4 linked regions of the Homo sapiens genome follow. The protein of the gene in region 1 purifies or fractionates together with the protein of each later gene. This does not show direct contact. Each region holds a gene or a part of one and is shown in the gene's direction. Other genes may lie near its edges.

Region 1 (3,500 bases):
AGAAAACCAAACACCGCAAGTTCTCACTTATAAGTAGGAGCTGAACGATGAGAACACATGGACACAAGCGGGGAAACAACACACACTGGGGCCTGGTCGGGGACGGAGAGCATCAGGAAGATTAGCTAATGGATGCTGGGCTTGATACCAAGGTGAAGGGTTGATCTGTGCAGCAAAACACTGTGGCACACATTTACCTAGTTAACAAACCTGCAGATCCTATACTCATACCCTGGAACTTAAAATAAAAGTTGAAGGGGCTGGGCACGGCGGCTCACCCTTATAATCCAAGCACTTTGGGAGGGTGAGGAGGACAGATGGCTTGAGGTCAGGAGTTCAAGACCTGCCTGGCCAACATGGTGAAATCCCGTCTCTACTAAAAATACAAACATTAGCTTGGTGTGGTGGTGGATGCCTGTAATCCCAGCTACTCGGGAGGCTGAGGCAGGAGAATCGCTTGAACCACTGCACTGCAGCCTGGCTGACAGAGTGACACTCTATCTCAAAAAAAAAAAAAAAAAGTTGAAGGAAAAATAATAAATAAATGAAACCCCAGGAAATTCAGTTTGGTTCCTGAGCATGGGCTCTTTCTGGAACAATATGGCCTCCTAACCAGGCTGGAAATCGAGGAGTGAGAAGAAAGGGGAAGGAAACAACCAGAAGAATGGAAAGCCCGACTGGAGCCCAGTAGAGACTCCGGTTGATGCACTTCGGGCCACACACACGTCCCTGTAACTGGCCCCACACTGAAGACCAGACTCAGGTCTTCATTTTTTAGAAGGAGGGACCAGGAGCTCAGGGGTGGTCCCCATCCCGGCCTGGGGCACCTCCCCCGAAATACGTGCTCTCCTCTGGCAGGTGATGGTGAACGGGAGCCTCTTCGTGCAGTACTTCCACCGCGTGCCCTTCCACCGTGTGGACACCATCTCCGTCAATGGCTCTGTGCAGCTGTCCTACATCAGCTTCCAGGTCAGACTGTCCACCTGGCACCGGTCCCAGGGGCTGGGATGCAGGGCCCAGCGTAGCTGTGCTTAGGCCCAGCTGGGGGGACCCAAGCCAATCTCCTACCCAGGTCACTCTGGGGACAACCTCTGCTTCCCTGTCCCAGTACCTGCCCGCCCCTTCTCCTCTGTCACTCTGCCCCTCCTTCTGTGTCACTGTCTCTGTCTGGAACACCTGCCTTGGTCTCCCAGACTCCTCAGCTGCCCCTTTCTCTTCATCCGTCAATTTCCATCCTGGTAAGGAGGGCATATTGTTCTAGAAAGAGCCCAGGCTCAAGAACCAAACTGAATCCAGTTCAAATTCCCAGCTCTGCCATTCGTCATCTGTGGGATCTTAGACAAGCAACTTTGCCTCTCTCAGCCTCAGTTTTGTCATCTGTAGAATGAGCATGGTCATTGCCTGCCCCCCATGGGTGGTTGTGTGATTCATTGAGGAGACAGATATCAGAGGTCACACAATGGCGCCCCTGGGCCCACACCAGGGTCTGTGTGACCTCTGTGTTTTAAAAACTTTGAATGCGTTGCCAACATCTAAAAGGTCAGGAGACCCAGGTATGGTGGTGGAGGTCTGCAATCCTGGTTACTCAAGAGGCTGAGGCAGGAGAATCGCTTGAGCCCAGGAATTAGAGTTCTGCCTGAGCAACATAGCAAGACCCCATCTCTAAAATCTTTTTGTTTGAATAATAAAATAAAATAAATAAAACTAAAGAAGGTCAGGAGATACCAACACCACGTGAAAAATGGGAAGATTAGGGTATGCTGGGCCCACATTCCCACAGGGCACCGGCAGCTGGATGGGAGCTGCTGTTACCCTTTTGGCATTCAAGGGAGCTCCCTGAGATGAGCGAAGTGCACAGTAGGCCCTCAGCAAATCTGGGCTCCTCACCCTTTGGTCCTCATCTCTCATTCCCTCCTTCCCTGACTCTCTCCCCTGCGGGTGGAAGGGGAGGGAAGAGCTGGAGGGAGACTGTCCCCCTGCGCTGCTCACCGAAGCCTGGCCCTTTCCGCTCCCGCCTCCGTGTGGCCCTAACCCCCTTGCTGCATCCCCCTGCCTGCCTGTTCTCTGCCTCCTGCCCCTGCATCTGCCTTTCGGCTTCTCCTTGGCTCTATTAATGCTTCTCCTCACCGGCCGGTGCCTTTTGTTTTAACAGAATCCCCGCGCAGTCCCCGTTCAGCCTGCCTTCTCCACGGTGCCGTTCTCCCAGCCTGTCTGTTTCCCACCCAGGCCCAGGGGGCGCAGACAAAAAGTGAGTTCAACACAGAGGCCCTGGGTGGCTGAGCAGACAGCAGGAAGGACCGAGGGTTTGAGAGGCTGGCCCCAGCCAGCAGGCCACCAGGGCCTATGGGCCACATCTTGCCCACTCAAGAGTTCCCTGTCTCTGTCTGCTGGGCACCCAGAGCCGGGGACCTGGGTGTTGCCCTGGATTCTTCACTACCCTTTCTTTATGTCTCTCCAAGGCACCAACATATCTCCCTCCCAAAGCCACCGATGTGGCCCAGGCCTCTGGGATTCCTCACCATGACTACAGGGGTCCAGTTCCCCACCCCCCACACCCAACCGCTGCCACAGTGACCTTCTTATAAGCAAATCTGATCACACTCTCTCCCTGCTTAAAAATCTTAAAAGTCCCCAGCCCTTTAAACAAAGCCCAAATTCCCCAGCAGGGCATACGAATTCCTCCCCAGTCTGGCCCCAGTCCACCTCCTTGCCTCACCCCCAACCCACGAAGCTCATGCAACCTCCACGGCTCACTCAAGGCCCTCTCGGGCCACCATGCTTTTGCATATGCTGTCCCTGGTCCCGGAAGCACCCTCTGCCAGCCTGCCCTCAGCACACGCCTAATCGCCCTTCCATGCTCTGCCAAAGTGTCGCTCCTCTGGGAGTCCTCCCTGCCCAGAATATTGTTGGATGCTCCCCCCATGCCCCCACGGAGTCTGTACATATCTGTGCCATGCCAGTTCACAGCACCCCATTGTAACTGTTTGCGTGTCTGTCCCTGTCACTCCACCCCCATCTCCCTATGCCCATGAGGCCCCAGAGGGCTGGGACTGTGGGTCGTTCATTTGCACAGTGCCTGGCACTCACTTAGGGACTCGAAGAATGGATGAATGTGGAATGTGGTTTTCGCAGCCAGGGAGAATGGGATACCAGCCAGGGCAAGAACAGTCTACTGGGTGGGGCAGGATCCACGACAAGGAGGTGGGCAGCCCTTCCTCTGGCCACTCAAGCAGTGGGGACTGGGAGGAGGGGCGCTTTGTCTATGTAGCCTTTTTATGGCCCATGATGGTACAGACAGTGCACCTGCCTCCTGCCACGCTGACTTCAGGACTGGTGGAGCCCCAGGGAACATTCGCAGGGCAGCCAAACTTTGGCCCTGGCCCTGGCGCTGGCCCTGGCCCTAGGGATGACAGAAAGTGTGCTGGATACAGTCAGACAGAATTGGCTGCCATTTTGGATTTGATCCCTTCCACCCGGGCAAGCTTGGGCAAGTTGCTTAA
Region 2 (3,500 bases), on another chromosome or scaffold:
GTTAAGAGCCTGTGAAGCCTGCCTGGGTGGTGGCAGGAGAGGTGGGGAGGGAGAGGCACTGTGGGGGGATGGGGATGACACCGTCGGGCTTGTGGCCTAAGCCCCTGGGAGGGCCTGGACTGCAGCCTGGGGAGCAGAGGGCTGGGCGGTGGCAGGCACTGGGCACACTAGGGAAGGAAAGGCAGGAGAACAGGATGCAGCCAGGAGAGAGGAGATTCAGCCACCACCAGTTCTGCCTCATCCCCAGGCCAAGGAAGTCCGGGGGGTGAAGGTCTTCCGCTCCTCGGCCACCGTGTACTTTGCCAATGCTGAGTTCTACAGTGATGCGCTGAAGCAGAGGGTGAGACGGAGTCCCCAGGATGGGTGTCAGGCCCCAGCTCCCAGAGAGCTCACCAACCCTTCTCTGATGTTTGCCTCCAGTGTGGTGTGGATGTCGACTTCCTCATCTCCCAGAAGAAGAAACTGCTCAAGAAGCAGGAGCAGCTGAAGCTGAAGCAACTGCAGAAAGAGGAGAAGCTTCGGAAACAGGCAGGGCCCCTTTTGTCTGGTGACCCCCATCTCCTGCCCCCTGTTCCCTGCCCCAGCCTTTCTCCTGGCCCCCGACTCCTCCCTCGTCCTCACTCCTCATCCCTTCCCCTTTCTCCCTCATGCTCCCAGGGACCCTGCTTCACTCCCCTAGCAGGTCCGGGCTCTAGGCAGCATTTTCTCTCCCATCATCTGAACCAGTGACAGTGAGAACCGTCACAGTCCTCTTCCCTTTCACGGCTGTTCCAGGAGCTTCAGCCTGGCTGCTGCAGGTCCCACAGCTTCTGGTCCTGGCCCACCCACCTGCCCAGCACCAGGGGGCATCACCAGGCCTATGTGACATGGCTGTCATGGCAGCCGGGCTAGCTGTTTCCCATTCCCTGTCTTCCCTGGTGTAGGCTGCCTCCCCCAAGGGCGCCTCAGTTTCCATTAATGTCAACACCAGCCTTGAAGACATGAGGAGCAACAACGTTGAGGACTGCAAGATGATGGTGAGACTGGAGGTGGGAAAGGAGGTGACAGCTGTGAGCTGCAGAGATGCAGGATCCACATGTCTCATGAGGAATGCCATGGACCCAGCAGCTGTGGGCTCGAGGGTGTTGCGCCGATGGCAGGAGGAGTGGGGAGGCTGGGTCAGATATTCTTCAGGGAGCGTCGTGATATGCCACAGAATCTAGGCTTAGATTCTCAGGCCTAGATGAAGACCTTGAATTTGTAGATCCCACAAGACTTCCCCCAGAGTCTGCTCATGGGTAGAGGAAAGGGATGGGGTATATGGGAGAAAATCAAGGGGTCAAAGGCAGGCGTGGTGGTACGCGCCTGTAGTCCCAGCTCTTCGGGAGGCTAAGGCGGGAAAATCATTTGAGCCCAGGAGCTCGGGGCTGCAGTGCGCTCTAATGGTGCCTGTGAATAACCACTGCATTCAGCCTGGGCAATGAAGCGAGACCCCGTCTCTAAAAAAAAAATTGAGGGGTCAAAGAGGATGCCAAACTTAATTAGAGACTGAGACAGGGCAGGGTGCCGAGGTGTCTGCATGCGTTTCATGTGGATGCCCGTGTCTATTCTGGCCTGCTCCTGGGCCCCCTCCCCACTCAGCCCTGGCTGATGAGAATGGGACAGGGACTCCCTTCTCGTGTCCCTGTGCAGCGTCGGCCCAGGAGGTAGCAGAGCAGTATATGCACATCTGGGTGTGCCCTCCTGCATGTCCCCACACATCTGTCATTCCTGTCTTTGCACACCTATGTGACTCCCGCATGTTTGTGTCCTTATGTGTCCCATGCATGCTCCCCATCTGACCTTGCGTGTTCTCGCGTGTCTGTGTGCGGCCAGTCCTGCCTTCACTCTCTCATGGGTGGCCCTGGCAGCATGTCTGGCTCCCCAGCAGGTGAGCTCAGGAGATAAGATGGAAGATGCAACAGCCAATGGTCAAGAAGACTCCAAGGCCCCAGATGGGTCCACACTGAAGGCCCTGGGCCTGCCTCAGCCAGACTTCCACAGCCTCATCCTGGACCTGGGTGCCCTCTCCTTTGTGGACACTGTGTGCCTCAAGAGCCTGAAGAATGTAAGGACGGGGGCAGGCCAAGGCCCCTCGAGCTTCCACACTGACCCTGTAATTTGCCCTGAGAGCACTCCCAGCCTCTGACTCCCCAAACCCTCAAAGCTCCCCTTCTAAACTCCCTCCCCAAGCCTGCCCGAGCCCCCCTCTGAGTCCCTGAGCCTCCCTCTGAGGCTGGCCCCCTTTTCCGCTACAGATTTTCCATGACTTCCGGGAGATTGAGGTGGAGGTGTACATGGCGGCCTGCCACAGTGAGTAGGGTGGGAACAGCAGGAGGGACCTGGGAAGAGGGTAGGATACTTTTGGCCAAGGGGTTTTCCAAGTAGCACAAGGAAAAAGTCTTTCTCTGGAACTGGAGGTCAGAGGTGTCCTGGGAGACAGGAGTCCAGGGTTACAAGTGATGTGGATTCAGCTGTAGCCTCAGGGGTGGAGGTCAGGGGTGATGAGGTCAGGGCATTCTGTTGGCTCCCGGGAGTTGAGTTCCTAGAGGTTCTGAGAGTCAGGGGAGGCCTACTTCTTGCCCACAGGCCCTGTGGTCAGCCAGCTTGAGGCTGGGCACTTCTTCGATGCATCCATCACCAAGAAGCATCTCTTTGCCTCTGTCCATGATGCTGTCACCTTTGCCCTCCAACACCCGAGGCCTGTCCCCGACAGCCCTGTTTCGGTGAGCCTACCTCTGGCCTGCCAAGCTCTTTTTTGTTAATCTATTGCTTGTCCCCACCCTGGCCCCAGCTCCAGGGAGTCTTTCCTGGTGGCCATGGCTCTGTCCCCAGTGGGCCCAGTGCTTTCTCCGCTGTCTTTGGATAAAGCTGTTCTAGGGGCGGGGGTTGGTCTGTGTCCTTTGGAAACTGACTAGAGCCTCCCCTCCTCTGCCTGCTCAGGTCACCAGACTCTGAACATGCTACATCCTGCCCAAGACTGCACCTCTGGAGGTGCAGGGCACCCTTGAGAAGCCCCTCACCCCTAGGCCGCCTCCAGGTGCTACCCAGGAGTCCCCTCCATGTACACACACACAACTCAGGGAAGGAGGTCCTGGGACTCCAAGTTCAGCGCTCCAGGTCTGGGACAGGGCCTGCATGCAGTCAGGCTGGCAGTGGCGCGGTACAGGGAGGGAACTGGTGCATATTTTAGCCTCAGGAATAAAGATTTGTCTGCTCAACTCCAGTCTCTGCTGTGGCTTGGTGGGGCCCTGGTGGTGGGTGGTCCACAGCTGTGGCTGCTGACCCTTCCTGTGCCCTGAAGGTGAGACGGGGCAGAAGGTGTAGGAAGGACTCGGGAGGTTAGGGTACAGAGCAGGGGAGCTGTGGAGGCATCCCCTGTTAAGGTCTCTCCCCAGCCATGCATAGCCCTCACTCGCTGTCTCCTCAGATGTGAAACAGTTGGAACCAGAGCTGCTTCTCAGGAATAATTTGCTCTCAGG
Region 3 (3,500 bases), on another chromosome or scaffold:
ATTGAGATAATAGTAATAAAAAAATTTAAAAAAGAAAAAAAAGCATAAGGAAGAAAATATACTTACTAAGTGAAAGTGGATCATCAAAGGTCTTCATCCTCATTATCTTCACGTTAAAGCAGGCTAAGTGGGAGGAGGGGTTGGTCTTGCTATCTCAGGGATGGCAGAGGCGGAAGAAAATCCACATGTAAGTGGACCCACACAGCTCAAACCCATGTTGTTCAAGGGTCAACTGTACTTTGATTTCTTCTGAGCTGCAGTCTCCCCTTTCTCTACCCTCACTTCCCTCCACCACTAGCTCCATTCCTGACTACTTTCTTCTACTGTTCTCAAGCCCAGGATACATCAGCTCTCCCTGGGAAAGACAAAAGACATCTTCATGCCGCCAGGGTATGGCAGTTTATCTCATACCTACTCTTTCACCACCACCCTGCCCTCTATCACTCATTGTTTCATTTACATTTATAAGACATTTTTGAGTTTCCACTATTGTGTGTGGTAGACTCTCACCCCTTGAATTCTGTACTTTTTCTTGTGCCTTCCCACATACTCTGTTGAGTGGAGGAAATAATGCATAATCGGCAAAGCAATGGAAAGATGCTGGTGTGTTTTTGAGGGCAGTTCCCCTTAATTAAGGGAGATGGGTTCTAAAAAGTCCTTGTAGATAAACAAATGGGTGATATTTGCTTCTTATCTGAAATTACTAACACAGTTGTCTACAACTGGTCATTCAGTGTTCTTGATTTCCCCTGTATTATTTCAATTACCCTAATTGCTACTAGGCAAAAACTTCAGTCAAATTTTAATTGCTCTTTAATGTTAACTTAAAATAGCTGCAGTTTTTTGTTTGTTTGTTGAGACAGGTCATGCTCTGTCACCCAGGCTGGAGTGCAGTGGCACAATCATGGCTGACTGCAATCTCTGCCTCATGGCTTCAAGTAATCCTCTTCAGCCTCCCAAGTAGCTGGGGACCACAGGTGTGTGCCATGCCCAGCTAATTTTTTGTACTTTTCGTAAAGATGGGGTTTCGCCATTTTACCCAGGTTGGTCTTGAACTCCTGAACTCAAGCAATCCAACCACCTTGGCCTCCCAAAATGCTGGACTTACAGGCATGAACCACAGGACCCAGCTGCTGTTCTCTCTTAACAAGAGACAAGTCCTAGAGCAAGATGCATTTAAACCCACTTTGGGGTATCAAAAATATCCCAATCTTGTGGTTCTAATAAATGTTTAACAACTAGGTTGGTATGGAGGTTCTGATGTGAAGCATTAGTCAGTTTCTGTGCTGTTACTAGATGTTCCCTAATAGGGCTGGGCAGAGATGCTAACAATTGGCTCATGAGGGCAGGTGGACCTGGCTCCAACCCACCACTGCACCCAATCCCTGAGTTCTTAATCTTCATCACACCCTCGACTTGCTTCCCAGCCATTGTTTCTGATCTCAGTTAATGATGCCTCTCAGTCAGCCAAGGAGACCTGACAGTCCCATCCACTTCCCCCACCCTCATCACTGAATCCTGTTGACTTCTCTCTCCAGCATCTCCTGAGTCTGTCCGCTTGTCTGTCCCCACTACAAACACCCTGCTCTGGTCTGTCCTGTCCATGGACTTCATTGCTACAGCATTGACTTTCATTATAATTTCCCTGCCTCTGTGCTGGCCCCTGTCAGCCGCTCTCTACTCTAAAGACAGTCAGCCTGCTGACACTTAAATTATGTTAGGCCAGTCTTGTTAAAAACCTTTCTGTGGCTTCCTCTCCATTAGGATCAGTCCAAACCCTTAGCGTTCCTTACTTTAGCACACATAGGCTGTGGGCTGGCCTTTGTCTGTCTTGTTCCCCACCAGCCACCCCTTGCCCTCCTCATTCTAGCTGTTAGGAATCACGTGTGTATCCTCAAGCACACCATGCTCTTTCTCCATTCAGGGCCTTCCTTTGGGGGTGCTGCTTCCTATATATCTGTATGATCATCTCTTCTTCCACTCCCCACCCACTCACCTACCCAGCCCTGCGGCCTAACTGCCTTTTATCCTTCAGTGATTTGCACGTTATGTCAGTTCCAGCATGACTTCCTTGGGGAGGCCCTAGACCAGGCAGCTCCCCTCATGCAGCCCCTGATGTAGAGCCTGCTCCCTGTCTTCTCCACACGTGAGGCTCCTGGAGGGCCTGGAACAACCCCATATTCCCAGCCCAGCCCGTACTACCTGGCAGATGGTTGGTGCTCCATGAATGTCGGGTCCATTTCTTGGATTTATGCAGGTCCCAGTTTTCTATTAAAGAGTAAGCTCCACATGGTCAAACATGTTCTTACTTCCTGTATTTTGTGTCAGCAGTTTGTCAGCTTAGCACAAAAAGTACCTGATGAATAATTTCTGCCACCAAAGTCATGTTGTTTTTTCTAACCAATTTTTTTTTCTCTCCTAGGTTTCATCAGCTGTTTTTCCCAACAAATATATGGTGTTGTGTATGGGAATGTAACTTTCCATGTACCAAGCAATGTGCCTTTAAAAGAGGTCCTATGGAAAAAACAAAAGGATAAAGTTGCAGAACTGGAAAATTCTGAATTCAGAGCTTTCTCATCTTTTAAAAATAGGGTTTATTTAGACACTGTGTCAGGTAGCCTCACTATCTACAACTTAACATCATCAGATGAAGATGAGTATGAAATGGAATCGCCAAATATTACTGATACCATGAAGTTCTTTCTTTATGTGCTTGGTGAGTATTCCATAAGTTGATTTGTTTAAAATGGCAAATTTCCATTTTTTTAGTCTGTTTTCAGAGACTAGCACAAATTAATGGTCTATGAGAAAAGAATTAGATGTTACCTGTTGTCAGGGTTTTCTCCTTTTCTGGTATAGAGGAGCTAGCTACTTTCAATTCCTTTGTCATTCCTCTGGGTGAGGAGAGAATCTAACCAAGGTGGGGAGAACAGTATCAGTTGTCTTACTAGGAATGTTTTGGAAAGAGATGTAGTGACAGCAGTTAGCTTAGAACTCTTTGGGCTCCACTGATAGATGTTACTCTATAAAGTTCCTGCTTCCCCACACAGCGGGGAGATTGTTTTTCCTCCTGCACCATTTTATTTAATTAATTTATTTATTTTGAGAAGGAGTCTCACTCTGTTACCAAGGCCAGAGTGCAGTGGCACAATCTTGGCTGACTGCAACCTCTGCCTCCCAGGTTCAAAGTGATTTTACTGTCTCAGCCTCCCAAGTAGCTGGGACTACAGGCCCGCACCACCATGCCCAGCTAATTTTTGTATTTTAGTAGAGATGGTGTTTCACTGTGTTGGCCAGGCTGGTCTCAAACTCCTGAGCTCAGGTGATCCACCCGCCTCAGCCTCCCAAAGTGCTGGGATTACACTCATGAGCCACCACACCCAGCTCCTGCACCATTTTAAACTGAAACTAGAGAGAGGGGACACATTTCTCCCTGCTTCTCACTGACACTCCTCCCTGGTCTCTAAAGCCCCTTTTGTGTTGCAGTCTTGTATAGGCCC
Region 4 (3,500 bases), on another chromosome or scaffold:
TTTGCAGGTGAAGAAAACCATGGGAGTCAGGGAAAATACTAGGGGGCAGAGGGTACTGAATCTGAAGCCCTTAGGGACACTAACATTTAGTGTGAGTCAAGGAATAGATTTCAACAAAGAAAGCAAACTAGGATGGGGTGGACAAAGCAGGAGGAAATTCGTAATCAGGAGATACCATGGAGGCCAAGAGAGAAGAGCAAGAAAGAGACTGCCCACTGGCTCAAGAACTGTGGAAAAGTCAAGACAGAAAGTGAACCATGCATATTTGATTTTTCACAAGGGATTGGTGGTGACTTTGGCAAGAGCTGTAGTAATGAAGAAGTAGGGGTGAATGGGTGGAGGCCACGTAACAGATTTAAGGAGTGAATTGGAAGTGAGGAAATGCTTATAGATTGTTAATTTGGGATGCTAGGGAGAGAGAAAGTATGAGGGATTTTTTTTAAGTTGGCAAATATTCAAGCAATTTTTAAAGACACACACAAAAACAACACCTTGTAAATGGAATGGGGGATGTGGGAGGCTGATAATCAACTAAGGAAAGTCGTTGAGGAGACTGATGGGTATGGAGGCAGAAATGGAAACTAGCTTTCAGGTGATGGGATTCATTTCAGAAAAGGAAGCAAAAAAAAAAAAAAGGTGTGGATAGTTGGGGTTACAGGTAGGTTTATAGGGAAGGAGTATTGGAAGCTTCAGGATTCTCCTCTGAAGGTTTCAGTTTGTATTAAGAAATAGGGAGAGAGGACTGTTGGAGAGTATGGGATAAAGGGCAGAAGGGAGTAATTTAAGAGTTGTTAAAAAGAAGCGAACATTTACATGAAATATGTAAAATGGTAAAGATTGAAGGCCCGGAGGAGCAGGGACTATGACATTCTTCTGTTTTTGCCTATTAGCAACATGAATTTTCTTAGAAATCTGTAAGACCAATTACTCTTCTGCCCATCCATAAGGACGTTGTCCATGCAGAAAAGATAACACTTGTAACCTTGTATTATATACTTATCATCGCCCATTTGAGAATTGTAAGCTCCTAAAAGATAATAACTATATTTTTTCATCACTATATCCCCACATCCTATCACAATATTTCATCACAGGTAATTCTTGACAAATGTTGATTGCATTTTTAAAATTTCTAACCTGAACTTGTGTGCTGTGACCACCATGGATTGAGTCTTCTCTGCCACTACAAAGCTCTTTTCTAGACTATGATATGAGATGGTTTGGGCTGATAGTCTATATTCACCAATACTTGTACAGTTCCAATGAAGGTTTCAAGTCTAATACTTTTGGCATTTGATATAAAATCATTTTCCCATTTTATTTGCTAATTTATCTATAACTCTGGCATTACTCTTGGTTACATTTGTCTGCTGCTATCTGATTTAGACTGCTATAAGCATATCTTGTTTATTCAGAGTTTTCTTATTCATGTTAATTATCTGTGTTTCTTTATTTGCTCTCTACATTTTAAATAGTTTCTTCACTTTGCTGTTTTATGAGAAGGGAGTAGGCAAAAGGAAAAAACCCCAAATCAGACAGTTTTACTACTTAATAGTTTTTTAATGCATCTTTATAGAGATTGAAGTTGTAGTTAACAGCTAGAGTGATATTTTTGGCCTGCCCTTATTTATTAATTACTAGTGCAAAGGTTATTCAAATTGTGGTTTATCCAGGTCAATTTTACTGTTATTTTTACTAATAGCATTTATTCTACTTAAATTGCTTCAGCTATAAAATGTTTTTATTGTAACAAATAATGCAGTATAATTATTGCTTTCTGTATTCCTTTGAAAATTCATTCTCTAAACATATGTTATGAAATGGTGGATTGTTCACCAACTACTTCTTACTTACTTAATTAAAGCCTTTGCAAAAAGTTTCATAGGATGACTGAGTTCTTCATTCGTACCTCTTTTTTTTAAGAATAATCTCTTGAAAGTCAAACCATGATTCATACAAATATAAAATGAACATGTGTCAAAGATTTTATTTCACTAATTAATTAACAAGCAAACTAGCAAGAAGGCAAAACCCTTTTAAAAGAAAATTGGAAAAACAGACACATTTATAGGCAATCAAGAATGCCTAAATGAATTTGCTAATAAATGCAAAATTGGTCAATATCCTCAGGGCAGTAAAATGTAGTCTTTTGGAATCCTCTCTTCCACCAGGTGGAAATCAATTGCAGAACAAGATTTATTTTTATCTGTATGGACAGCAATCCATTTGAATTACTCTCAGTTTTCTACAACTTATGAAACTGTAAAACAGCCCAGTCAAAGTCAGTGAAAGGCACAGGCTTCTATAGAGTCAGATAATTCCAAAGCGTCTGTTAGACATTGCCCAGCACTTGACTGAAAGGATACCCAGTAGTCTTTGTATCCCTTTCAAAATCTTCACCATATTTTCTGATACTTTCCTTCCTTTATAATTTGAACATCTTCACCCCTTTATTCTTCTCTGGTATACTATGTCCTCTCTCCCTCAGTGTTTCTCTCTCAGGGGAAATAATTCACAATTCCAAAGTTTTAAAGAATGCAACGGAAGTCCAGGTTTTGCCTTGGGCTTCCTAGTATTTGGGTGGCTAGAAATGTAGAAAACTGGGAAGAGGTGAGCTGTGGATGCCCACAATATAGGTTCAGACTGCAATTTCCCAGAAATATAACAATTTGGACTAGTCAAAGAGGGCCCATATCATTACATTAAAATGCCAGATTATCTAGTTTTTATAGTATCACCCTACATTTTTACAGCATAGTATTGTTTAGAGAGCACTTGCCGCTATGTTTTCCATGTTAATGCTCAACACAGTTCTGTGAAGTAGCCCGGTGTTTGTTTTTGATCCTCCTACTTAAGAGATCCTCCTATTTTAGAGAGTAAACCAAGGCATAGAAAAGTGAGTTGCTTAAGGCAGCATATTAAAAAGGGGCAGAAATAGTATTTTTACTCAGGTGTTTTGAACATTGTCCAGTACCTATATTCCAGTATGCATCCTTGCATTCAATTCATGGGGTATTTATTGAGTAAACATAGTGTTCTTACAATAGAAACATTCTATGCCTCTGATTTTTATTCCAGTTTATGTAGAAGTAAATCTTAAGTGTGAACTATTAACAAAGTTGATATTTTATTTATATTTGTTAGTAATTTGTGTTTTGTTTTTGTTTATGTTTTGAGGGGAAGGCCAAGTAGCTACTTAGGTAAAAGAGTTGCTGAGTGGCTGAAGAATATGGAAGACAACTACAATTCCTACACATTCTTGTACATTTTAGTTGAACAATGAGTGATTACATTTATTTACCCAGTGCCTCTTCTATAAGGCAACAACTGGTAGTTTATCCTATTGAGAAGCGTAGATAGGATGCTTATTAGCAGTAACTGCTCTTGGTTTCAACTTGCATCTTACTTAGCTTTTTCACCGTTTTGTGGTTTCTTGGAGGAAGAATACCCATAATATACATTTGGAGACTGTTGTTCTGTAGTGTCAATGAAATGTGGGG

The links. The genes of interacting proteins can lie anywhere in the genome.
Region 2: the proteins of LGALS9C (region 1) and SLC26A6 purify together in Homo sapiens (affinity purification with mass spectrometry; 2 studies listed by BioGRID and IntAct, with this or other methods). This does not show direct contact.
Region 3: the proteins of LGALS9C (region 1) and CD58 purify together in Homo sapiens (affinity purification with mass spectrometry, with the first as the bait; one large-scale study listed by BioGRID). This does not show direct contact.
Region 4: the proteins of LGALS9C (region 1) and CD47 purify together in Homo sapiens (affinity purification with mass spectrometry; 2 studies listed by BioGRID and IntAct, with this or other methods). This does not show direct contact.

The regions. Positions count from the first base shown.
Region 1 is NC_000017.11:18,486,789-18,490,288, forward strand, and holds part of LGALS9C (galectin-9C), read left to right. Parts: intron 1-111; exon of another isoform or gene 112-128; coding exon of another isoform or gene 129-152; intron 153-858; coding exon 859-969; intron 970-2,152; coding exon 2,153-2,248; intron 2,249-3,500. UniProt on the Homo sapiens protein: Binds galactosides.
Region 2 is NC_000003.12:48,625,462-48,628,961, reverse strand, and holds the end of SLC26A6 (solute carrier family 26 member 6), read left to right. Parts: intron 1-247; coding exon 248-340; intron 341-420; coding exon 421-528; coding exon of another isoform or gene 529-547; intron 548-923; coding exon 924-1,016; intron 1,017-1,889; coding exon of another isoform or gene 1,890-1,906; coding exon 1,907-2,086; intron 2,087-2,276; coding exon 2,277-2,331; intron 2,332-2,607; coding exon 2,608-2,744; intron 2,745-2,961; coding exon 2,962-2,976; 3' UTR 2,977-3,239; downstream 3,240-3,500. UniProt on the Homo sapiens protein: Apical membrane anion-exchanger with wide epithelial distribution that plays a role as a component of the pH buffering system for maintaining acid-base homeostasis.
Region 3 is NC_000001.11:116,543,527-116,547,026, reverse strand, and holds part of CD58 (lymphocyte function-associated antigen 3), read left to right. Parts: intron 1-66; exon of another isoform or gene 67-149; intron 150-2,202; exon of another isoform or gene 2,203-2,326; intron 2,327-2,422; coding exon 2,423-2,716; intron 2,717-3,500. UniProt on the Homo sapiens protein: Ligand of the T-lymphocyte CD2 glycoprotein.
Region 4 is NC_000003.12:108,081,032-108,084,531, reverse strand, and holds part of CD47 (leukocyte surface antigen CD47 isoform 1 precursor), read left to right. Parts: intron 1-3,500. UniProt on the Homo sapiens protein: Adhesive protein that mediates cell-to-cell interactions. Acts as a receptor for thrombospondin THBS1 and as modulator of integrin signaling through the activation of heterotrimeric G proteins.